Linked DNA regions of Homo sapiens. The protein of the gene in region 1 interacts with the protein of each later gene in a pairwise test. Each region holds a gene or a part of one and is shown on either strand. Other genes may lie near its edges. The genes, in order: GLUL, TAT, RHOJ and RBBP6.

Region 1 (7,991 bases):
GAGAAGAAAAAAAGAATAACATTGTTAACGCCCACTCCAAACTGATCCCCTGCAAAAATGGCTCAAGAAGGACGACTGAATCAAAAGTCAGAGTGTAAGTGCCAACTCCTTCCCTTGTGGAAGTCAACACACAAAAAGTTATGTTTACTCACTCTTTCAGGGGGATTAGTTTTATAGTAGGCAAAAATCTCCTTTATAATAGGCTGTAAAACTGATCACCACCTTTTGAAACAATTAACACAGATGCCTGCTAAAGAAAAGATCAGGCCCTTGGTAGTAACTCAATGCCTCTGCATCCCTGAGCTCACAGGCTTAAGTTCCACAGCTACTGCAGAACCCAGGCTTCCAAGCTAGAACTTATACTTGTGAGGACTAAGGTCTATTCCTTCAGTGTAGCTGAGGTTAACACTAAACTATCCAAATACTAAACTATCAGAGGAAACAAATCAAAACCAATACACAAATTTACAAAACATAGAACTTCTTCCAATATAAGTAAAATCCAGCCACAGAACAGGCTTGGCTTCCACAGTTTGTTTTTCTCTTTGTCTTTCATCCTAGCTGTGGTCTTAACTCAAACCCACCGCCCCTCCCCACCAAAAGAAAACTCATTACACATTTAGATTTGAGGATGAAACAAGGTTACAATATATTTTTTTAGAAGGCTAGCAGTTTCCTACACAAAAGCTGATTCAAGCCAGATTCTAAGGGGAATGCTGCCATAATTTCCATAGGTCTCATGCAAAGTCTCACTTAAGATAGTGGGCAAGAATCACAACATTATGGAATTCTACAAGACTTGTCAAGTAATTAGGAAATTTCCACTTCTAAATCAAAAAGATCTGGAAATTTAAAAGCCATGAGGCATACTAATAACTGCCAGCCACTACCACAAAACCTCCGAAAGAAGAGAAACTCTCAAGCCACAACAGCCGAAGAGGAAACATTCTCTCTCTCCCTCCTCCCTCCGTGGACCAGGGTGGCTAGAAAGGGAACACATTGTTCTCCTCCAACGACTAGGGCAACGTTCTGAAGTACAGTGGCAAAGTTTCTACGGGCAACCGTCCATGTTTGCCCAGCTGAAAACATAACTGCTTCTCCCTCAGCCTCACCACCCTTCCCCTTGGGGAAGACCAACACCCCAATATTGCCTCTAGAAGACTCAGCCGGCCAAATCCTACTTCCCACCTCCATCCCAGAACCCTTTAGCTCCCGCTAAAAGCTACAACCCACCGAAGCGGGCAGATCACCTGAGGTACAAAGTTCGAGACCAGCCTGGCCAACACGATGAAACTCCCGTCTCTACTAAAAATACAAAAATTAGCCGGGCGTGGTTGTGCACGCCTGTAATCCCAGCTACTCGGGAGGCTGACACAGGAGAATCGCCTGAACCCCAGAGGCAGAGGTTGCAGTGAGCCGGGAGATTGCACCACTGCACTCCAACCTGGGTAACAGATAGAGACTCTGTCGGAAAACAAAAAAAAAAAACCTACAACCCAATTTCTCGGCTGTCCTCTCCAACATGTTACACCACCAATATCATGCACACTTTGTCCTAAGCCTCAGTTTCGGATCTCTTGCTCTTTTCCGTGAGCCGAGTTGCATGCCAGCAGCCTAGTGCCACTCTATCAACTGCTGCTGCTGCGGTGCCAAGTTTACGTGGGGGAAATGGATTCTGAAGTTTTCAGCAGTTTCTGCAGCTCCCACCAACTCCGGGGTCGTCCTCCCTGCCCCCTCACTCACCCCAGCCACAGAAAGTCAAGCGTATCGTTAGGGTTGCCCTCTTTAACCCTTCTCTTTTTGGAGTGGCGTTCGCGCCTCTCCTCTTTCTCAGACTCTAGCTGGTCCAAGCACCGGAGCTTTCTGGGAGAGGGCGATGGAGAAGGGGACAGACAGCGGCCGGCCCGGGGGGTGTCCGAACAGGCAGGTTGGTGGGTTAAGGTCTTAATCTTGACTCGAGATCTCTCCCCGGAGTTCACAGAGTAGGCGACGAAGCCGAAGCAGCTGGAGCGCGACCCGGAGGAGTCTGACTTCTCGTTGTCTTCATAATTTTCATTCGTTGCTTTCTTCGTGGACTTGCGGCTGGGGGAGGATCCCCGCTTCCCGCCCCCGAGGGAGTTATAATTATCCACTTTGAGAGCAGCCCCTTCCCACTGAAATGTCCCTAAAGTGGGCGCCCTGCCCCTCGGGCCCCCGTCCGAATCTCAGGGCCTCACGGAGGTGGCCATACCCTGCCGCCGAGGGGTTGGGGGGTCCGGGGGAGGGTGGGGGCGCAGGCCGTAGGGACTGCGCGCTGCTGCTGCCTCCGCCCGGACCGGCTTCTCCACTGACTGCGCCGAGGCCCGGGCTCTCCATTGTTCGGTCACATTGGAAGGCCCCCGGGACCCCGAGGCGGGAGCCGGCCGCCCAAACAACGCTCACCGTTACACGCCGCAATCGAGGCGTCTCAACCATCGCCAGAACCAGGACGATTGCTCCGAAGGCCCCACCACGAGGAAGGCAGCCAGGCGCCCGCGCCAACCAAGCGCCTTGTTTGCGCTCCACAGGGGACCGCACCGCCACTCCATCCACAGCGCAAACAAACCACTGCGAGCCCCAGGGCGCAGGCCGGCCCAACGGCCTCCAGGGGCGGCGCTTCGGCCGCAAGTAGTGAAAAGAAGATCAAAACAACTCACCCCGCCCTTCCCAGAGCCTGGCCAAGGGCGCGCCCCACCAGCGCCAGCCCCGACGGGTCCAAGCCACCAGCGGCGGAAGCACGCGGGAGGAGCACTCATGCCGGATCTCAGGCATGGGCCGGAGAGGCCGCAGCGTAGGGCTGGGACTGGAGGGGCAGGCAGCCGAAAAAAGAGGCTGGGCGGCGCGCCTCGCGGGGTAGCAGGGGCGGCGCGCCTCGCTTGCGTGACACCGGGCCGTCCGGGGGCTTACCTGGTCGCCGAGCAGGCGGGCGGGTAAAGCTAGGCCGCGAGAGCGAGGTTAGGAGAGGAGAGGAGGCCGCAGTACTGCTCACACGCTCCGCTCTTCTCCCACTCTCGACTCTGCAGAGCCGCCAGCAGCCCCGCACCCTTTATCCGCGGCCCGGGGCCGCCCCCGGTGCCCTGATTGGCTCCCAGCGGCCAGGAGCCCGGGCCGATCAGCTGATGCGGTCCCGGGCCCCGCGGCCATTGGGCGAGGAGCCCGGCGGGCGCCGCTGGGGTGGGGGCAAGCGAACTGGGAAAGAAAGAAAGAAAGAGAAAGGGGCGTGGGGGAGGGGCAGGGCGGCGTGGGGGAAGGGAGCGGAGCCGGGAGGGCTGAGGGCAGAGGGGCGAGTTGCCGCCAGGCCGGGAAGCCTCGGCTCGCCGCCCACCCGCCAGCTCGCCAGGTGCCGCCCCACGGCCCCCAACCCGGGGTCCCGAGGCTCCCAGCAAAGCCCGCCCTGGACCTCTGCCCTGCCGCCTTCACGGGGAATAGTTTTACGAGGAGAGCTCCCTGGGGAAATGCGGAACCAGGGAAACCGAATTTAGCCTTTTGTTGCGAGGGAGCCTCCGAGCCCCGCTTCCTGCGGGCAGGGGTTAGCTTGAGAGGGAGCGCGGGGCGCGGGACCCGAGGGAACTTTGGGCGGGCCTGGGCTAGGGCGGGTGCCGCGCGGGCCTGGGGACAGGCCGGGGTTCCCAAGGCCTGGAAGAGCCGCCCGCTCCGGCTCTCTTGGGTCTGGGGAAATAAACAGAACTCTGCCATTTCACATTTGAAATCAACGTGCTGTTTCTCTAATTTTACAGAGAGGATTCTGGAGGGCGGTAGAAACTAAGTCTGGAGACCTGTCTCATACTGCTGGCCAGACCCTAGGCAGGTCTTTCAGGGCCCAAGTTTCCTCATCTGCAAAATAAAGTGGTCATCGAAAATGACCTGTGGAGCCGCCCACTAGATTTGAAATTCTGTGTGCAAACTGCCCCCGGAGCAGCTGAAAGGAAATCGAGGTGTTCACTTGCCCCCTTTGAAGTCCAGGGATTGTCAAGAAATTCCTTTAACGAATTCTCCCTGATTTTGCTTTATCAAGTGCGGCTTCTTGTTAATCTGGAAAATGGGAATACATACCTCTCCTCTCAGCTTGCCGTGATGGTTGGGAAAATGTGTATGTGAACACAATATTGAAATGTACCTAGAGACACAACATAGGTAGGTAGGTAGGTAGGTAGGTAGATACTGCTATCCGTACTATTACTCGATCATTCTATTTTTAGTGCCTGAAATCTACCTGATGGTGTCCAGATTTTATTGCTTCTTTCAGTTTAAAGAGCAAGAATTTATGCTTCCAGTGCCTTTGGAAGAGGAAGGGAAGAAGTTTGTTCTGGTTATGTTTTGTACCGCAAATGTGGAAAAGAAATGTTGCCTGCAACCACACACACATAACTTGGCTTCTTTGGTCAACATCCCTTTCCTTTAAGAGTGTATAACACTGTAGTGCTTTTACATGACAGATGCAGCATTCATCTCAAACAGGGTTTTTTGGGATGTTTCAGACTGGTGACATTTTGGATTGGGTAAGGTGCCTTACAAATTCCTTGTTAAATTTCAGTGCTGCCCCTTGAAGCATTACATTGTGGTGGCTAAAGGCACGGCTGCAAGTCAGGTAAACCTAGGTTCAAATCTGGGCTTTCCCTTCATACCAGCTTTGTGTTGGCCAAATCACTTAGCCACATGAAGCCTGTTTCTTTGTCTATAATAAAAGAGGGATAATCATTTTTACCTCATAAAAGGATTAATTGTGATAGCACATGCAGAAGAGATTGAGTAGTCCTTGGTGCATCGTAAATGTTTAGAAAACAGCAATTATAATTATCATAGGCCAAGTTCTATAATCTGAGGTGATTGGATTCTTTCTTTCCCCATAGCGACTTTTGAATACAACTTTTCTGACTCAGTGTAATGCTTTACCATTCATTATATCAAACTGGACTTAACCTTGGTAACACAGTGAGCTGTCTTCATCTCTTTCTGTAAAGGTTTGAGTTTAAATGGTCGAGGAAGGGGAGCAAAGGAGGAGAAAAGTGATATTTTTATTTTAAAAGATGTTATTAATCATTTCCAGATACCAAACTACCGAACCATAAGCCAGAGCCTCTGCTGCACACACCACCAGCCCCTGAGGTGGGGATGACAAACATAACAGAGAACGGAATGGTAAGGCGTGAGTGCGGTTCTGCAGGCTTATGGTATTTCTGCCATTTGAGTGCCTGCTTCCCTTCCTAGATGTCTTGACCTCATTGAGCAGTTTATTCATTGTCATATCCCCCAGTAGTGTCCACGGTGAGTGTTCAATAAATGATATTTGTTAACCACACAGAAGTGACAGCAGCACCATCAAGAGAACATGTGCTTTGAGCTGCTTTTCCAAGAATGGAAATGGATTTGCTTTGATCCATTCATGTGACCAGGGGCACGCTTTGTAAGGGTTAGGAACATAATACATGACCACTGACTCTTTCAGGAGTGAACAAGAGGCCTTGTCCTCCTTGGCCAGCCCCACATTTACTTAAAATGATGAAATTAGGGCGCAGATGAGTCCAAGAACTGACCAGGGAGGCTTGAGCATAGGCGAGAAGTAAAAGCAGAAGAAAACCCTTAACTGGTTCACCCGCAGAAACCCAGACTGTACTTTTAGAGAAGTTAAAAGTAAAACAGCCTGTTTCATCCAGTTTGACTTTGCTGTGTCTGCTGCCCTTTCTTCTCCTTCCCCTTCTTCCCTAAATTGCCACCCGCCCCCATTCTTCACCCCCACCATAAAAAGAGCATTAGAATGCTTGAACCCATGAACTTTTCTGTTTCTTGGTACACACCATATCAGTGCTGACAAGGGGTTCCATTGCATGTGCTTTGAAGTCATATTTTTCTCTCTTAGAGTAGAATTGCCATGTCCAAGGGGTGGGTGGAGTGGGAGAGCAATTACAGGGAAAGATTTTGTTCCAAATCTGCAGAAATAGCCTGAGATTAAAAGTATTTCTTCAATGTTGTTCTGCTGCCTGAAATAAAAGCTTTGTATTAGGATTTTGCTCTACTCCCAAATCTTATCTCTATTAGGAAACAACTTTTCTCTTTTTTTTTTTTTTTTTTTTTTTTTTTTTTGAGACGGAGTCTTACTCTGTTGCTCAGGCTGGATGCAGTGGCGCAATCTCGGCTCACTGCAACCTCCACTCACTGTAACCTCTGCCTCCCGGGTTCAAGCAATTCTCCTGCCTCAGCCTCCCAAGGAGCTGGGATTACAGGCGTGTGCCACCACACCCAGCTAATTTTTTGGTATTTTTAGTAGAGACGAGGTTTCACCATATTGGCCAGACTTGTCTTGAACTCCTGACCTTGTGATCCGCCTGCCTCGGCCTCCCAAAGTGCTGCGATTACAGGCGTGAGCCACTGTGCCCGGCCCTTTCTCTGTCTTTTAAAGGATCCATTCTCACTCTGCAAGTATGAAGTCCTTTACCTGGGGATCTGGAGTGCCTTCCCAGGGCCTGTGTGGTTGCCTTATACACATTAGACACAAAATTTAGGGTAGGGCTCACATTGACCAAACCTTTTCTGTTTAGGAAATGGAGTTTTCCCTGTGTATGAATGATTTCAATAGGCATTCAGTGAGACCTTTAAATCATGTTAAAGAGATACAATTGAGACTCAGGGTTGGGGAACACCCTGGAAACCCAACCCAGAATTGTAAAATATTCTTTTAAAAATTATTATTATGTAATAAACCAACATCAGTTCTTTCCAAAAGAATGGACCATAGTAGAATCTTAAACCAAATCAAAATAATAATAATAAAAATGAAGAAGAAAAGAAATAGCTCTGGAAGTTGATAGCATTATTCTTAAACCATAATTTAGGGAAAAGCTGTAGTTGGCCAAGCTTTCAAATTTCACTTTATACAATTAGAGAAGGAAAGACTACATTTACATTATACTTCAGTTCAATAACTAGCACTAAGAATGGAGGAATTGTTCTTTACAGTTTTTGATTGTTTGATATTCTTCAGTTCAAGACAGGAAATTGGAAATTCACGTCTCAGCCATATCTGTAGCCTGATTTGAGTTTTGTAGGATGCGTGCTGAAATCAGTCAAATACAAGGAACACTTCATTTCCCCAACTGCGTGTTATGATGGAAGGTTTGGGTCTGTTTGAGCTCTACCCTGAATCATGTCTCTAGCAGGAAACTACGTGGAAAGTTGGGAAGAATCAAGTTCATCTTAGTTAACAACCTGGGGAAAATGTCCTATTGAGAAAATTAAAGCCATACAATTCTAGAATTAGATCTTCACATCATTCTATCTTAAAGATGAGGAACTGAGGCTTAGATAACTCATAGTAACTTGATGAAGTCATGTTTGGTTAGTATTTTAGAGCTTAATGAGCTTTCAAGGTGCTGTTCTTTTTCTGTTCCCTTTCCTTTAGTCGCTTTGGTCTGTGGGTGATCTGTTCCGGGGCCACCATCTCTAAAATACTGAAATTCCTACAGTCCTCACTGAGGGAGGTGCAGAGGACAGGGAGCAACCATTTACCTCTCAATCCTGGGTATGCTTACCCAGTGACTTCTGTATAGCAGACACTCAATATATATTTTCTTTGTGAATAACTAGATTAGCAGAAAAAAACAACACCATAGGAAAGATTCTCTTTGAAGGACTCTTTGGAGATCATTTTTCACATCTGATAATCTGCCTCCAGTTTCATTGTTTTGTGAATCGGGTTTTTTTAGATACATTTTGTCCTTTATTCTCAATTTACACTGTACAGATCGTTGTTCTGTAGATTGATTGGAACATTATTGAAGCTAATTAAAAAATTTAGAGAATTTAGCATTCTGATCAAAAAATTATTTAGATCAGAGTATGTGCTTTAGTTGGTACCATTCCCAAAGAAATCCTCAATGGGATCCACAGCCCTTCCTCCCTCCCCTCCCACCTCATTAGTTAATTTGGATCCCTGTTTATTTCACATTGACTCGCCAAATTTTAACAGGAAACAAACA
Region 2 (7,129 bases), on another chromosome or scaffold:
ACCTATAAGGGAATAATCTAAGTCTCCTGGTTTAATGTCCAGTTGGAGACAGGACACCAATCTTACAGGCTGTGTAAATGTGGGAGGGGGAGTTGGATCCGTGTCTCCTTGAAAATCTGAACCTTGAGGCCAGGTGCAGTGGCTCACGCCTGTAATCCCAGCACTTTGGGAGGCCGAGGCGGGAGGATCACTTGATGTCAGGAGTTCAAGACCAGCCTGGCCAATATGGTGAAACCCCGTCTCTACTAAAAATACAAAAATTAGCCGGATGTGGTAGTGTGTGCCTGTAGTCCCAGCTACTCGGGAGGCTGAGGCAGGAGAATGGCATGAACCCGGGAGGCGGAGGTTGCCGTGAACTGAGATAGCGTCGTTGCACTCCAGCTTGGGTGAGGAGGGTGAGACTCCGTCTCAAAAAAAAGAAAAGAAAATCTGAACCTTGAGTGACAGAAATCAGTCATAGTAGCCTTCTCACATTGAGAAAAATCTGATTCTTACTTGATCTCTTTTAAAGACCAGTGGTCTCAACCTCTGACAAAGATTCTCTGATTGACCAGACTTTTGTCAGGCTTCTGGATCTTCTTCTAAGCCCATCTGCACTTCCTTGCAAGATCCAGTTTTAGCAAAGAACCCTGAGTCATTTTGGCAAGATTTCCCACCCTGCATATCTGACCAGGTTCCTCATTCTTTGCCGTCCCCCAGGGAATGTTTGGTCACCATGGCCTGTCTTCAGCAGGATGACACTGACACTGGCCTTCTAGGTCAGTTTAGCAGAATCCCCCTTACTCCTGATGATTCCTCTTACTTTTTCCATCCTTGGCTATAAATCCACACTTGCCATCACCATATTTGGAGTTGAATCCAATTTCTCTTCCCCACTGGAAAATCCATTGCAGTGGGCCGTCTAGCTATTGGAATGGTCCTGAATAAAGTCTGCCTTACCATGCTTTAACAAGTGTTATTGAATAATTTTTTTTAACACCTCTGAGTCTCTGTCCACCTGGAGAACCACTACAGTAACACTCAGTGAGGTACCTGTGTCATCTCTCAAGCACAGTATATTGTCATGACAGGTAGTCTGAACTCCAAGAGGTTGTTCAAATTAAACATATTTGCATTGCTTTCGTCTTTGTATAGTCCGTAATTGAAACTATCCCTCAAATAACAGGATATGCATAAAAGTTCTCTATCAATCATGAATGTACAAGGACATTCGATATGCTTTATTTTTTATTTTATTTATTTATTTATTGAGACAGAGTCTGGCTCTGTCGCCCAGGCTGGAGTGCAGTGGCGCGACCTCAGTTCACTGCAAGCTCCACCTCCCGGATTCATGCCATTCTCCTCCCTCAGCCTCCCGAGTAGCTGGGACTACAGGCACCCGCCACCAGGCTGGGCTAACTTTTGTATTTTTAGCGGAGATGGGGTTTCACGGTGTTAGCCAGGATGGTCTCCATCTCCTGACCTCGTGATCCGCCTGCCTCAGCAACCCCAAAGTGCTGGGATTATAGGCGTGAGCCACCACACCAGGCTATTTATTTTTATTTTTTATTTTTTGAGACGGAGTCTCACTCTGTCGCCCAGACTGGAGTGCAGTGGCACGATCTCGGCTCACCACAACCTCCACCTCCTGGGTTCAAGCGATTCTCCTGCCTCAGCCTCCTGAGTTGCTGGGATTACAGGTGTGCACCACTGTGCCTGGCTAATTGTTGTATTTTTAGTAGAGATGGGGTTTTGCCATGTTGGCCAGGTTGGTCTTGAACTCCTGATCTCAGATGATCTGCCTGCCTTGGCCTCCAAAGTGCTGGGGTTACAGGCATGAGCTGCCACGCCCAGCCCACACATTATTAAGATTTTAAAAAAAGCAAGCTACAGAACAGCCCTGTCCAATAGACAGAATGCAAGCCACATAGTGACTTCAAATTTCCTAATAGAAATATTTTAAGATATAAAAACAAATAGGTGAAATTAATTTTAAGAATGTATTTTATTTTACTCAGCACACCATGTATTTTATTATCATATATTTTATTATATATTTTATTATATATATACGGTGTACTGAGTAAAATAAAATACATTTTATATATATATATACATATATATATATATATATATATTTTTTTTTTTTTTTTTTTCTGAGGCAAGGTCTCATTCTGTCACCCAGGCTGGAGTGCAATGGCATGATCACAGCTCTCTGCAGCCTTGACCTCCTGGGTTCAGGTGATCTTCCTACCTCAGCCTCCCAAGTAGCTGGGACTATAGGCTCATGCCACCATGCCTGGCTAGTTTTTGTATCTTTTTGTATAGACGGGGTTTCACTATGTTGCCCAAGCTGGTCTTGAATTCCTTAGCTCAAGTGATCCATCCACCTTGGCCTCCCGAAAGGCTGGGATTACCAAAGGTGTGAGCCACCATGCCCAGCCCCAAAATATTCTTTAAACATGTAATCATACAAAATTATATGAGATATTAACATTCTTTTTTTATACTAAGTCTTCAAAACCTGATGTGTATTTTACAACACATCTTAATTCAGACCAGTCACATTTCAAGTATTCAACGGCCACTTATGACTAGTAGCTACAATATTAGACAGTGCAACTATAGACCACGTTTACTCTCCATTTTTTTAGCAACTCCCAAACCAGCTTTATACGTATTGTAATAAACATAGAAAACATTTGGAAGGGTACACAAGAAATGACTAAAAATGATTTTTTTATATAAAATGAGAATGCAGGGAGGGAAGGTGATCAGGGTTTAATTCACGTACATCTCTATTTGAATTTATTATATAAGGATATATCATATTTACTAAAAATGTAAAAGAGAAATGCTTATTCTTTGCAACACAGTCCTTGTATAGAAATCTGTCTTAAGGAAATAATCAAATATGTAAACTAACATTTATGACAAGGATGCCCTTGGCCCAAGACGTGAATAATTTTTTCTAGTGTATCCATGCTATAGACGTTACCTGCCATTACTGTATAAGAAAAAACATAGTGTACCTAGGGCTCAGTACTACCCATGGTTTCAGACATCCATAATTTCAGGCATCCACTGGAGGTCTTGGAGTGTGCTCCCTGTGGATAAGGGGGGACTACTGTATTCAACCCCACTGGAGGCTTGACTCCCTGAAAAGTGAATGGAGAAGAACAAACTGATGTGAAAAATCTTTGTCTTCCAACAAATAAACAGACAGGATCTGAGCCCTGGGGAGATCACTGAGGCTTCTCTTAACCCTTCAGTGGGTGGTATTTTCCATCTGCTCACAGGAATGTTGAGATTTTGGCTGTGGACCTTGTGTTTTGCTTAGCAAAGTTGTTTTGTGTGGATCGCACCTGACATTTTAAATTCTTCCAACAACCATAGGAGGTAAATGAAGAATTCATGCACAGTGCAAGGATAAAACTGCACAGGTTTCAGCTGCCTTGGACACCCTGTGCTTTTCAGCTATTTGTTGAATGGAACTTAAGTGCCCAATTTGTTCTGATTGGAGCAAAACTTTGTGGACTGACAAGGATGGGCGTCCAAGATGTAGGAAGTTAAAAAAAAAATGTTGCCAAACAAGGTGTAGAGCACGATCCTATCTGTGTTTTGAAATCTATGAAATTATGTATCTATGCACCTATATGTAATGTATCTATCTCTGAATGGAGGGAAAGAGCCTGACCATTACCACCCTCTACCCCTGGGAGTGAGAATGAAGTGTACAGGGAGCAGGTGCAAGGAAGAATGCTCACTTCTTACTTTATATATTTCTGTACTGTTAAAATTTTAACAGGCTGTTTTGTAAAAAAAATTTAATAAAAGCTATCAACTGTAACCAGAAGTACTTTCTGACAGTAGATGTTCTCAAACCATCTCACCAAGTGCCCAGAAAGAGTTAACACAGGAGAATTCCAGATGTTTGAAGTGAGGACAAATTCCTGCTTTGAGGGTGGGAGGTGGGCTTAGGGATGAGAGGCAATGACGGGGGAGAGGAGGAAAGAAGCTGAGGGGAGAGCTGGCTGCTGAGTTGTCATTCCAACCAATGGCATGAAAGTTTCAAGCCCAACGCCCATTTGTGGAGACTATTTCAGGAGTTAGGATTTGCATCTGAGTTCATTGCCCCTGTAACCTGTCAAAGAAGAGCTAAGGGAGCTTTCGGGGTTGGCTTCTTGGAGGCTGCTTTCTCCTTTACTTGGAAGGTAAAAATCTCAAGCCCAAGCTGATCAGGCAGTGGTGACTGATTGAGCTGTTAATTTTTTTCTTTTTGGTGTATTGATTTCTTTTTCCAGCTAGGGCTGTAACATGCTTATGGGATAAGGTTTTACTTTTACTAACAATGATATTTACATGGAACTTCTAACAAGATGGAGTGGTTCTTCCTGGTCCTCTGCAGATGACAAGAAGCATTAGGTAGATTTTCTTGGATAGGCTCGCATGGAAAGGAAGGAGAACCTATGCTTTGACTGATGAACAATTTTCATCTTATTCCTTCTTGGTTTCACATAGAGCATGGTTAAGCTTTGACAGGAATTGCAGATGCGTGTAGCAAATCCTACTTAAGTAGAATGGGTTCTTGCTTTATTTTCCATCTCAGTAAAAACTCTTAAAACTCCCCCATTCATAGTAAAGCTACTTTACAACAGAAAGTAGAAAAAAAAATAAAGAGAGAGTTTGGAAAGACACTTTTAGTGAAGTCACCCAATGTTTAGGTCCAAATGTAGCTCCTCTGTCCCCCAGCGCTATGTTATCAACATCACAGGGAACTTCTTTCCCCTCGCAGGCTTCGCTAGTGATGGACCCATACATGATTCAGATGAGCAGCAAAGGCAACCTCCCCTCAATTCTGGACGTGCATGTCAACGTTGGTGGGAGAAGCTCTGTGCCGGGAAAAATGAAAGGCAGAAAGGCCAGGTGGTCTGTGAGGCCCTCAGACATGGCCAAGAAAACTTTCAACCCCATCCGAGCCATTGTGGACAACATGAAGGTGAAACCAAATCCAAACAAAACCATGATTTCCCTGTCCATTGGTGAGTTGGGGACACTACTGAGGGGCTGTCATTGTCCTCCTCTACTCTCATGTTCACAGGCTGGTTGGAGAAGATGGCAGTTGGGGGTGAGTCTGAGTACTGAACATGGGAGAATAACCTCTTGGCTCCTTTTGTGTTTTCCTCCCATAAAAAGGGGACCCTACTGTGTTTGGAAACCTGCCTACAGACCCTGAAGTTACCCAGGCAATGAAAGATGCCCTGGACTCGGGCAAATATAATGGCTATGCCCCATCCATCGGTAAGCTCCTCCTGAGACTCCATACCTGGTGACTGCCAAATCTTTAGTGCTCTTATAACAGGACTAAATGTCTAGCAATCCTCTTCACTTTCCTGATGCACAATTCCTAAGGAGAGGCTAAGATTACATGGTCCTTTGGATTTGGGAACCGGGTCTCGGGATGCTTAAATACAAGGCATCAAGGTCCAACTTCTTTCCTGGCTTTCTTTGACATATGGGCACTTCCCCTCTAGGCTCCCAAACATACTTATTTGTCAAGTAAAGCTCCTATCCTATCATTACTAATTCTAATCTGAAGGCCTTGAGTCTGGCAGGAGCTTTGTGTTTGCTGAGCCTCTAGGTCCTAAATGGATTTACTTATTGCTCTGTGTATATAGCTCCTTTGCTTCATTTCTGCTTCTCTATGTATTGAAGGCCTATTTTCATTATGGTCCTGAGCACATTGAAATGCAATTGTTACCGTTTATGACTAACGGGTTTAAACAAACAAATAAACAAACACCCAAGAACAACAAAAAATGGGCTGTCAAACTGAAGGATAGAAGGTTGTTTCTGATAGATTGAAATTACTCCTTTTTAGGTTTCTCTCCATCTATTAAAAATTTCTACCCTGAATATTTTGGTAAAGTACATGATTCCTTGACTTTCAGTATTGAACATTTTTTTTCCTTATGTGTACATAGAAACACATTCTTAATGCAGAATAAAACCCCAGTTTCATGATAAAATCAAATTTTAAAAACACTTTAAAGAGTTATATCGGGGACTTCGTGGTTTTTCGGTTGATTACTTACATTTTATAAAGTTTCATACAACAAAAATAAAAGCAAAATCAAGACCAAAAGTTGTTATAAAAAAAGTTTCTAATGACTTTAACATCCAAATATTAGGAAACTGATTTAACCTGAAAAACCAAAACCAAGTCTCCATTTGACAAATGTTCAAAGGTTCTGAACATTTCATTTCAAAGGAGATACAGGTGTTAATATATGTCTAAAAAAGTGTTCTTCCTCATTAGTAATTAAGGAAGTGCTGATTTGTATAACTTTGAGACACCCATCTATACCTATTAAATTAGTAAACATTATGAAATAGTGCCTCTAGCCTTGCTAAGTTGTCTTTTTGAACATAAATTTTGCAAAATATTATGATGGGCATGAAACTGCTGATACTTCAAGCTTGTAAGCCAACATTTGGAAATATTGTACAAAAATAATTTGAAATAAAAATTTGTACAAAAATACTGATAAGAATATTACATAACATAAAAAACTTAAAATGGACCACATGAATTGAATGCACTGATTACAACTTCTTTTTTTTTTTTTTTTTTTTTTTTTGAGACGAAGTTTTCGCTCTTGTTGCCCAGGCGGAGTGCAGTGGCATGATCTTGGCTCACCGCAACCTCCGCCTCCCGGGTTCAAGTGATTCTCCTGTCTCAGCCTCCTGAGTAGCTCGGATTACAGGCACGCGCCACAATGCCCAGCTAATTTTTGTATTTTTAGTAGAGATGAGATTTCTCCATGTTGGTCAGACTGGTCTCAATCTCCCGACCTCAGGTGATCCACCCACCTTGGCCTCCCAAAGTGCTGGGATTACAGGCGTGAGCCACCGCGCCTGGCGATTACAACTTCTTAAAAAATACAGTCCCTAAAAAAGATTTGGGAATAATAGAAATCCTTGTATTACACAGAATAAAATATAATCACAGAAATCAAGATGGTGCAGAGTATTTGGGGAGCTCTTCCTTGTTATCATTTATACATTCGTGCTTATACTAAAATTGTAAAACATAAAATGTGAAGTGAATCTCCTTTATCCACAATGGCTGAGAGCTGAACTAAATAGA
Region 3 (2,603 bases), on another chromosome or scaffold:
GACTACAATACTAACCTTTTTTTCTGAATCTGCTGTTCTACCCATGTGTCTCACATTCATTTGTATTATTTCAAGAAATGTACTAATTTCCAGTTCACTCAGGCCTTACTAATCCATACCAAATTAGCCTAAAGACAAGGCATTTTATATTCATTTCTATTTTCAGCATGTTTCTACCAAAGCTATTAGAACCAACACGTACCTCTGAATGCCCGATTATAAGAAGACATGAGAAGACTTTAAAAGTTTTGGAAATTTACAGAGCCATGATTTTTGAACCTAATTGAAAGAAAACCATCTGAATTGTTGCAGGTCCACATTTTTGCCAAAGATACACTCTATAGATGCTTAGTAGTGGCCTGATTTTTTTCCATGTATTGCCACGACAAACTAAAAATGAACTGTGTTTAAGAATGTAGTATTTCTGTTTTTCATCCAAGTTGATTGGGGGAAGAATATGGCAGGATCCATCTTTTACAGTATTTTGTATTCAGTAAAGTGGACATTCCTGCTCCTCCCTTCCCCCATTGCATGCCCTCTTCCTCCCTTGATTTCACTTTCTCTCATGCCCGGATCCTTTTATTCTCCCCAGTTATAACCCAGTTATAAAAGAAAGATCTGAGCATAAAGATACGTGTTTAAAAATAACTAAAAGTAAAGGAAAGTGCCTTAATTTTTCTATTTGCTTCAACTGAAAGTGCTTCTCAGCTCGCCCCATGTAAGTTCTCATTCCATGTAAATGACATTTTCCAGTTACAACTGGTACTGAGATTTTGCCTCTCTCTTTCCTTACTCATCCTCCCAAATGTCTTTGTGGGAGCCATATCAGTGGATACCAAGCTCTGTATCCATTTGTCCCCTGCCCTCCACAATGTGTGACATAGAACAGGGACTTTGGCCCTGGGAAAGCAAAAGCTCCCAGTAAGGAATCCTGTGCCCAATGATGTAAAACAATTCCAAACATCCAGGAATTTTTGTATCATAGAGCGAATTACTTCCTATCTTTTCATTAGAGGCTATGAGGACTTCTAATTAGTCTTAGTTGCTTATAAGTGCCCTGGAATCACCCAGGTAGGCACTTAATTTTTTTTTCAGTTGCATGAGCAAAGTGCTTCTTAGTAGTGTGAAATTACAACAACTTTAAGACTTTCCAGATTCAAGCTCCCACTGTTGGAAAAAGCCAGCCTTTCTAATCTCTTCTGCTACTGGAATAAGCACTTAAGAATTGCGTGATAGCCAGGCACCGTGGCTCATGCCTGTAATCCCAACACTTAGGGAGGCTGAGGTGGGTGGGCCGCTTGAGCTCAGGAGTTCAAGACCAGCCTGGGTAATATAGTGAGATCCTGTGTCTCTATAAAAAAATTAAAAATTAGTCAGTTGTAGTGACACATACCTGTAGTCCCAGCTACTCAGGAGGCTGAGGTGGAAGGATCACTTGAGCCCAGAAGGTAAGGCTGCAGTGAGCTGTGACTGTGCCACTACACTCCAGCCTGAGTGACAGAGAAAGAACCTGTCAAAAAAAAAAAAAAAACAACCTACATTTCAAGTACTATTTCCCTTCTCTCCCATCTAATTGCTAAAGATTTTCTTTCATACGCACACACTCCAGTGACTGGAAAAACGGGAGTTTTCAGTCAAAGCTTGACATTTAGAGAAAACAAGGACTTTCTGCCTTTATAAATGGAAATCAACTGTGTATGAACTATAACTCTGCAGAGGTTATGAATTCATCCTTTACAAACAATAATGAACTTTTAGTCCTGTAATAAATGAAATGTTATTAGGCAGCTTTGTTGCATGATTGCATAGTTATATCTTGCTAACGGGCCACTCATTTCTCACTGATGTGGATGAAAAAATGAGAGCAGTATGTTTCCAGGTGTGTGCACTCAACAGGCAAATAGCTCCCGAGGTCACCACTTCCCTAATGGGCCACAGGAAGTAAGTTGATCTTGATGGGGAGATCACGTCACCCAGAACCAGCAACTGGATAGAGACTGTTGTTAGTGTCTGGGTAGAGCACAGGCTCCCAGGGGTCTTAAGAGCTAATTACTGAATAAAACAATCTAGAACAAAGCAACCTAAATAAGTTGATGTCATTCTGCCAAATTAATCAGTTATTCCTTGTTTCACGGCAAGATCCAGTTTGTTTCACTAAAAAGTGTTTTCTGCTATAAGATTAAACTGTCTTCTGAAACCAAAGATAAGAAGAGACATAGAGGCCCGGCGCAGTGGCTCACGCCTGTAATCCCAGCACTTTGGGAGGCCAAGGCTGGCAGATCACCAGGTCAGGAGATCAAGACCATCCTGGCTAACACAGTGAAACCCCATCTCTACTAAAAATACAGAAAAAATAGCTGGGCGTGGTGGCGGGCACCTGTACTCCCAGCTACTCGGGAGGCTGAGGCAGGAGAATGGCGTGAACCCAGGAGGCGGAGCTTTCAGTGAGCCGAGACCGCACCACTGCACTCCCGCCTGGGCGAAACAGCGAGACTCTATCTCCAAAAAAAAGAAGAGACATAGAAATTTGAAGAAGGATCCTTTAATGGTCTACACCGTCTTCCAAAGTCAAGAAGTGGCAGCTGATATCCATTTGAAAGTAG
Region 4 (7,037 bases), on another chromosome or scaffold:
CAAGACTAAATAATAAAGCTGCATCAATGGTCTCTGGAAAGCTCTTTTCTATGATGTGTTTGAACTTGGAGAAAGCATCAAACTTTAATATAAGCTTTGCATGTTGCTAATGCGTTTTTGGAAGCCATAAATCAGGCAGGAAAAAAAAAACTAACAAAAACTAAGTGATACAACGTGAAAATGGCAAAATATACACTCCAAACATTTTTTATTGCAAGAAACAAAAAGCACACAACAGCCTGTACATACATACAAAATACTAACTATAGACAGACAAATGTAGAACATGTCATCATGTTCCTTAGTGTAAAACCTAAACGATCTAAAAAGGATCATACATTAACTGTACAACACAGTGTCATACAGGGATAATGCTATCATATTTAATATGAAACAGTGTTACGGGCACAAATTACCCATTTCTACAAAATAAGTGTGCAAGTGATGCCACATATTATCCATATTCAACTGAGCTGTCATCAAAATACATTTTATTTACAATATGTACTATGATCAGTTGGATATTAAGTTCTAAAATGATTTACTTCACTGCTACATTATAAAGGTAAAAGCAATGTGTAGAAAAAGTGTGAGATTGTGTTTTTACATACTGCTTTTGTAGTTGCCATCGCTGGTTCAGTTCGACTTCTAAAACACAAAATAAAAACAAAAATTAACATTAGCTATTTATGAATTTTTGTGCTAATAAATTTTAACACATTATCTTCAATAATACATTTTTAGGAACCTAATTTTCCTTTGGTATAAATATTTAACAGCCAATTTCTGAATGAATAAATTACTCTGATTAATCTTTACCACCTTTGAGCAGTTTTAAGATAGATTTGTGGTTTGGAAAAAAATTCCATACTAGGGAATTCAAAAATAGGTGTACCCTGCCACTTAAAACAAATGTTTTCTGAAAGGTAGTATAGGGATTTTATGTTTAGAAACGTAGTTTATTCTTAATAAACTGAAAATTTTAAATTATATAATTTCCCAGTTTCTGAATGCGTAAATTTTCACACATCAGGAAGACTGCTGTTGTTAACATTTGTAATTTGAATCCCTGAGAAATTGCTGTGCTCCCAAAACTAATTTTCAAATCTGGAGGGCCAGGCTGATAGCTATTTTCATTTTTCAAATGTCTCAAAACAACAATCAAGGATTGAACAAGAGGCCAAGGTGAGAGGATCACTTGAGCCCAGGAGTTTGAGACTAACCTGGGCTGTAACATAGTGACCCCATCTCTTAAAAACAGAAAAAAAAAAAAAACTGAACAAAAATTCTCACTCCCAGAAAAACACAATATAATCAGAGTATTTTAGTTAAAAGAACTGACTTAAATGGCTGTGTAGAACTGGACAATTTGATGTTTAAAAGACATAAACCCCAAAAGAAATTATTTTAATCCACACAGGAAAGGGGAAGAAGTTGAGTTGCTAGATTATAGCCTTTTAATGCTTAAAGTTTAAGGTATCTTGACTATAGAGAAATGTTAGCATCTAACAGGAGTTTCTAGGTGTGTGTATAATTTGGAATTTGAGATAAAAAAAAAACTGAGCTTTGATTTTCTAGTATTTGCTCAAAAAAAAACTGAGATGCATTTTATGAGGCAAATTTATTACAAACAGAACCCTATATATTGTACATTAACATATAATTCTGTGTAAGAGGCAACTTATTTTGCCATGTACTTCAAATAATTCTTAAGAGTTTCTATCAAAAAATCTACAGAAAATACATTTGCCATTTTTTAAAAAGCACTTGGTAAATTAAAGTAAAATTTCACACTGGATTGTAGGAATTAATTCTCCCCATAAATTTATAATTCTTAGGCTGGGTGCGGTGGCTCACGCCTGTAATCTCAGTACTTTGGGAGGCCAAGTTGGGTGGATCACCTGAGGTCAGGAGTTTGAAACCAGCCGGGCCAACATGGTGAAACCCAGTCTCTACTAAAAATCCAAAAATTGGCCAGGCTTGGTGGTGGGCACCCATAATCCTGGCTACTTGGGAGGCTGAGGCAGGAGAATCGCTTGAGCCCGGAGGCTACAGTGAGCCAAGATTGTGCCACTGCACTCCAGGCTGGGCAACAGAGTGAGACTCCATCTCAGGAAAAAACAAAACAAAACAAAACAATATATATATATACACACATATATATATAATTCTTAGAATCATTTAAAGTTAAGAACACACACCATTAAAAGTTCACTTGGCAATTACAACAAGGAAAGTATTCAGCTTTTTAAAGTAGCTATTATATGGAAGATACTGCACAAAAGGACCTCTAAGTGTTAAGATATGGAATATAACTTTACAACAAACTAATGAGAAAAATCTTAGAATACTTGCCCATATGAGGTAAAGCTCCAAGAAATGACTTTATTTTTACCTTAATTTCAAGAACACTTTCCATTCCCTAGCACTGGCAAATTCTAGAATTTTTCATTGACTCAAAATAATTTGTTCCAATTTCAAACAATACTACCTAATTCTAAGTGAAAATCACTACTCTTTAAATAACCTATGTTGCTGCCCTTTTCACATATTATAGTTCTGCTATCACTACTGAAATTGCAAGAAAGCAGAGAAAGTTAAGGATATAAGGTTTTAATCCTGCCCCAGGTTAGTGAATACCAGCTCCGGACTAGTTGTGAGACTGCTCTCTTCCTACTCCAATAATGTGCATTTAGCATGTGCCAGACACTATTTAATTCTTACAACCCTCTAGAGTTAAGTACTCACGTCCCTATTTTATTTTTGAGGAATCTGAGGCACAGAGACTTACCCAAGGTCCAAAGTCACACAACTGGTATGAAGCAGTAAATGGAGTCAAATCTAAGCCTGATTTCAGTGCCCATGATTATAAATCCTATATACTTTATGCCTCTCAGCCAAAGCCCCTTATTGATAAAGAGTAAATGTTAGCATTACTGAATACTCTTGATGCTGTCAAAATATTTAGGACCGATGTCTACAACACCAAATTTTTGTAGTGAAGAAAACTGAAGGAACCCCCACAAAAAAAAGTAGTCAAAGAAAGGCACAGAAATAATGTGAATATCACTTTCTTGTATCTGTAAATACTGGCCATATGGAGAAAAATTTTTCCTAATAATGGCCCTCTCACAACAGGCTAAGTCAATTTAACTGGGGGAGGAAATCAAAAACAAACGAACAAAGAAACCTACTATCCTCACAGTCTTGAGAAGATGTATTCATTAAGGTTAAAGTAATGAGTTCAGTTCTAAAATACAGTTTTTTCTCACAAAATTAAAAAAACTAAAAAAAGTCTATTTTGAGAAATACATGAGATTTGATACTTACATAACATATGTCTTGCTTGTAGATTTAACACCTCCAATAGGAATTCTTCTAACAATTACAGAAGAATTCTTAGGAATCAGAGCATTATCATCAGTATATTCTGTAAATAAAAAGACAGAATTGAATTTCCATTTGGGGATTTGAGTGCGTAACCAAGAATTAGAAAACTTCAAATATAAATTTCATGGGAAATGACTTTAAATATAATAACTACAAGTTCCTTGCAACTAGATTACTGATATTGTCAGAACAAACATCCAAAGCCCTAAGAGGGCTTCTTTTCAAAGGACAACCAATATCATCAGCAGGTTCTTGGCTCTAGCACTTCTACTTTTGTGGAACTCCAAATCTCAGTAACACCGTCATTCTTTAGTTTAGTCTGAAATGCTGAACATGTGAATGGTGAAAAAGCCGTTATTCGGAATGAAGATATTCTGTCTCTCCTAGTCCCTAAACGTTAGTTGAGTATTACAATCCCTGCATTCACAGAAATTATTACTGAGGAAGATAGACTAAAAATTAAATTATGACGTTATGAATAAAGAGAAAATGGTTTTCTAATAAGGAATGAATAGTGGAATACAACTTCAGATAGAATGTTGATTCCAAGAAAGCCCCTTGGAGGAACTTCTACTGGATACTTAAAGACTGAGAACCCAGCCAGATACAGGAAAAAAACTGGTTGAGGACTATTTCAGGCAAAGGATAAAAAAAGCATGTAGAAAAATGATACGAAACGGCTTGAAGAGCCTAAGAAAATAAAAGAAAAGAATGACAGAAAGGTATAGACCATACACTGATTTATATTTTGTTTTGAAGTGCAACAGGAAGACACTGAAGGATTTTAAGCAAAGTGATTATTTGCTTTTTGTTAAAGAAAAAAAGACTACTGGCCAGGCGCGGTGGTTCACGCCTGTAATACCAGCATTTTGGGAGGCTGAGGGGGGCGGATCACGAGGTCAGGAGATTAAGACCATCCTGGCTAACACGGTGAAACCCCATCTCTACTAAAAATACAAAAAAATTAGGAAGGTTTGGTGGTGGGCGCCTGTAGTCCCAGCTACTCAGGAGGCTGAGGCAGGAGAATGGCATGAACCTGGGAGGCTGCAGTGAGCCGAGATCGCGCCACTGCACTCCAGCCTGGTGACAGAGCAAGACTCTGTCTCAAAAAAAGACTACTGTGGCACCAATGTGGAGCACAAACTGTAGGAGAACAAGAGTAGAAACCAGGGGACTAATAACCAGGCTGCTAAAAAATCCAGGTAGAGATAATGACGACCTGTGTTATGATGTGAGAAATAAAGACAGAATGTTTGCAGGTAGGATTGACAAAGCTTGCTGATGGACCGAATATGGGGGAGATGAAGGAAATGAAGAAGAAAGAGGAATCAGGCCAGAGGAATCCCTGGGTTCCTGGCTTCAGTCATCGGATAAACAGTGATGTCACCTTCTGGGAAAACCAAGAGGGAGAAGAATGGATCCTATTTTTACACTCCTTGGGCTATTTGCAATACTTGTATAAGAATGAAATTAAGAAAATGGACCTTAACTATGGTAAAAAGATTTGCTACAGAAAGAATCTGTAAAATTACCAAAAAGAAAAATTACCTAGAGATGCAAAAATGTATCCATCTCCTTTAATCACACAACCAGGCCTTTTTATTGTCATTAAGTTTACTTGCTTCACTTAAAGTTACTCTGCACAAAGTGACTATCTCTGTTCTTCCGATTATTACGCTTACCACATATGTAGGCATATTCGGCTTTTAATGTATATTAATTATTTTTAGTCATAATGCTAATAGTATTGTTAGAAATGAAATTGTTCAGGCAAGGGTTATTTTCTATATACTTCAAGTAGAAGGCACTATCTCACAGGCATTCAATTAGAGGTAGGCAATTTCCTAGATTTAGGCATGCCAATGTAGGACTATAATCTTTATCTTGGACAGTTCATGATAGCCCCAAATTCCGAGGAAGCTTTGAGTCAGAAAAACTGAGAGCATGGGGTGACTAGATTTTTTTAAAAGTTAATTCTAGAAATAAAACTTTGTGTCAAACACCTGACAGGAAGTTTCTGAATATGTAACAACTCAATGCACTCACAAGAGCTTTCCAAGACAGCTTATTAATTTGATTAGCACCGTACTGTGTCAAACTAAAAGGTGCCTCAATGCCCTTCAAAACAGATGTTCTAACTGACTTTTTAAATACCTGAATTACAATGATTTCTTACCCCTCAAAGTATCTTTCTAGGGGTAATAAAGACACTTTGGGGGTATTTCATTTAAAATACCTCCTTAACAAGTAGTCTGTTGGCTTCAAAAGACCCTTTCTGCTTGCCAGTTTTTTTGACCCCAGACATGAAAGGCATGGATGAAATGAAAAACAGAATGAATCCGAGAAATGGAGAGTAAGAAAGGTGACAAGGGTCATTTATAAACACTTCATATTCAGCTTCCAAACCTCTCACACTTTAATTTCAGAACGAAGGATGTTTTGTTTTTTAGGGGTCGGTGTGCAGAAAAGTTTCTCATATATAACAAAGATTACTTGATATTCATTTTGAAATACAGTCTAGAAACAAGCAGGATTCTTGTCTAAAATCCATGGAATTCTGACCCAAGCGTTTCAGTCTTATCAAGATTTAAGGGTCCTATGCCAGGCACAGTGGCTCAAGCCTATAATCCCAGCACTTTGGGATGGCCTTGGGAGGCCAAGGCAGGAGAACACTTGGGCTCAGGAGACCAGCCTGGGCAACATGGCAAAATCCCCATCTCTACCAAAATAAAATAAAAAAAAATTACAATAAATTAGCCAGGCATGGTGGTGTGTGGCTGTAGTCCAGCTACTTGGGAGGCTGAGGTGGGAGGATCACCTGGGCCTGGTAGGTTGAAGCTGCAATGAGCCAAAATTGTGCCATTATACTCTAGCCTGTGAGGATGTGTCTCCAAAAAAAAAAAAAAAAAAGATTTAAGGGACCTAAACATGCACATAATTCCAAAACTGTAAGGAAATGTTTTACAGAAACATGGTAGATTAGGGATTTTAAAATTATAAGAATGAAATTAAGAAACTGGACCTTAACTGTGATAAAAAGATTACCATAGTTTTCTTTAGTAAATATGTTGAATATCGGTGCTAAAACCAAATGGCATTCTACTCAACTGCCTTGTGACATTGGATACTATTTCCCATAAAACTAGTTAAGTAGCTACCATCAATATCTCTTTCTCTCTTAATTTGAGGACTGCATAAAATACACATTTTCTCCCTCAAAGCTCCCTTTTCTTAACAAACCGAACATCAAAGCTTTCTCCAATAAAGGGCAGTTCACATAAATATAAAAAAGAAAATGTGCTGGGCAAAAACACATTCCTGGCTTTCTGGGTTTGAATTACGTATCATTTATTTCCTGGGCTAGGAAAAAAAAATTGGTTACACAAAGTCACAAAACTCTTAAATTTCCGGACAGGATTCTTTTAACTATAACTTACCCAGTCTAAAGTTGCATTCACATGCCTGTAATCCCAGCCCTTTGGGAGACCCAGGTGGGTGGATCACTTGAGGCCAAGAGTTCGAGACCAGCCTGGCCAGCAAGACAAAACCCCATCTCTACTAAAAATACAAAAAAAAATTAGCTGGGTGTAGTGGCGCATGCCTGTAGTCCCAGCTACTTGGGAGGCTGAGGCATGAGAATCGCTCAA

Evidence for each region.
Region 2: the proteins of GLUL (region 1) and TAT interact in binary tests that used the Homo sapiens proteins (3 or more experiments, as listed by UniProt).
Region 3: the proteins of GLUL (region 1) and RHOJ interact in a protein complementation assay, tested with the Homo sapiens proteins (one study listed by IntAct).
Region 4: the proteins of GLUL (region 1) and RBBP6 interact in a two-hybrid assay, tested with the Homo sapiens proteins (one study listed by BioGRID and IntAct).

The regions. Positions count from the first base shown.
Region 1 is NC_000001.11:182,388,754-182,396,744, forward strand, and holds the start of GLUL (glutamine synthetase), read right to left. Parts: upstream 3,038-7,991; 5' UTR 2,926-3,037; intron 2,589-2,925; exon of another isoform or gene 2,422-2,588; intron 2,100-2,421; exon of another isoform or gene 1,744-2,099; intron 1-1,743. UniProt on the Homo sapiens protein: Glutamine synthetase that catalyzes the ATP-dependent conversion of glutamate and ammonia to glutamine.
Region 2 is NC_000016.10:71,574,073-71,581,201, reverse strand, and holds the start of TAT (tyrosine aminotransferase), read left to right. Parts: upstream 1-4,109; 5' UTR 4,110-4,193; intron 4,194-4,774; 5' UTR 4,775-4,786; coding exon 4,787-5,021; intron 5,022-5,175; coding exon 5,176-5,280; intron 5,281-7,129. UniProt on the Homo sapiens protein: Transaminase involved in tyrosine breakdown. Converts tyrosine to p-hydroxyphenylpyruvate. Can catalyze the reverse reaction, using glutamic acid, with 2-oxoglutarate as cosubstrate (in vitro).
Region 3 is NC_000014.9:63,291,433-63,294,035, forward strand, and holds the end of RHOJ (rho-related GTP-binding protein RhoJ), read left to right. Parts: 3' UTR 1-2,076; downstream 2,077-2,603.
Region 4 is NC_000016.10:24,542,556-24,549,592, reverse strand, and holds part of RBBP6 (E3 ubiquitin-protein ligase RBBP6), read right to left. Parts: intron 3,431-7,037; coding exon 3,331-3,430; intron 649-3,330; coding exon 612-648; coding exon of another isoform or gene 558-611; exon of another isoform or gene 192-557; intron 1-191. UniProt on the Homo sapiens protein: E3 ubiquitin-protein ligase which promotes ubiquitination of YBX1, leading to its degradation by the proteasome.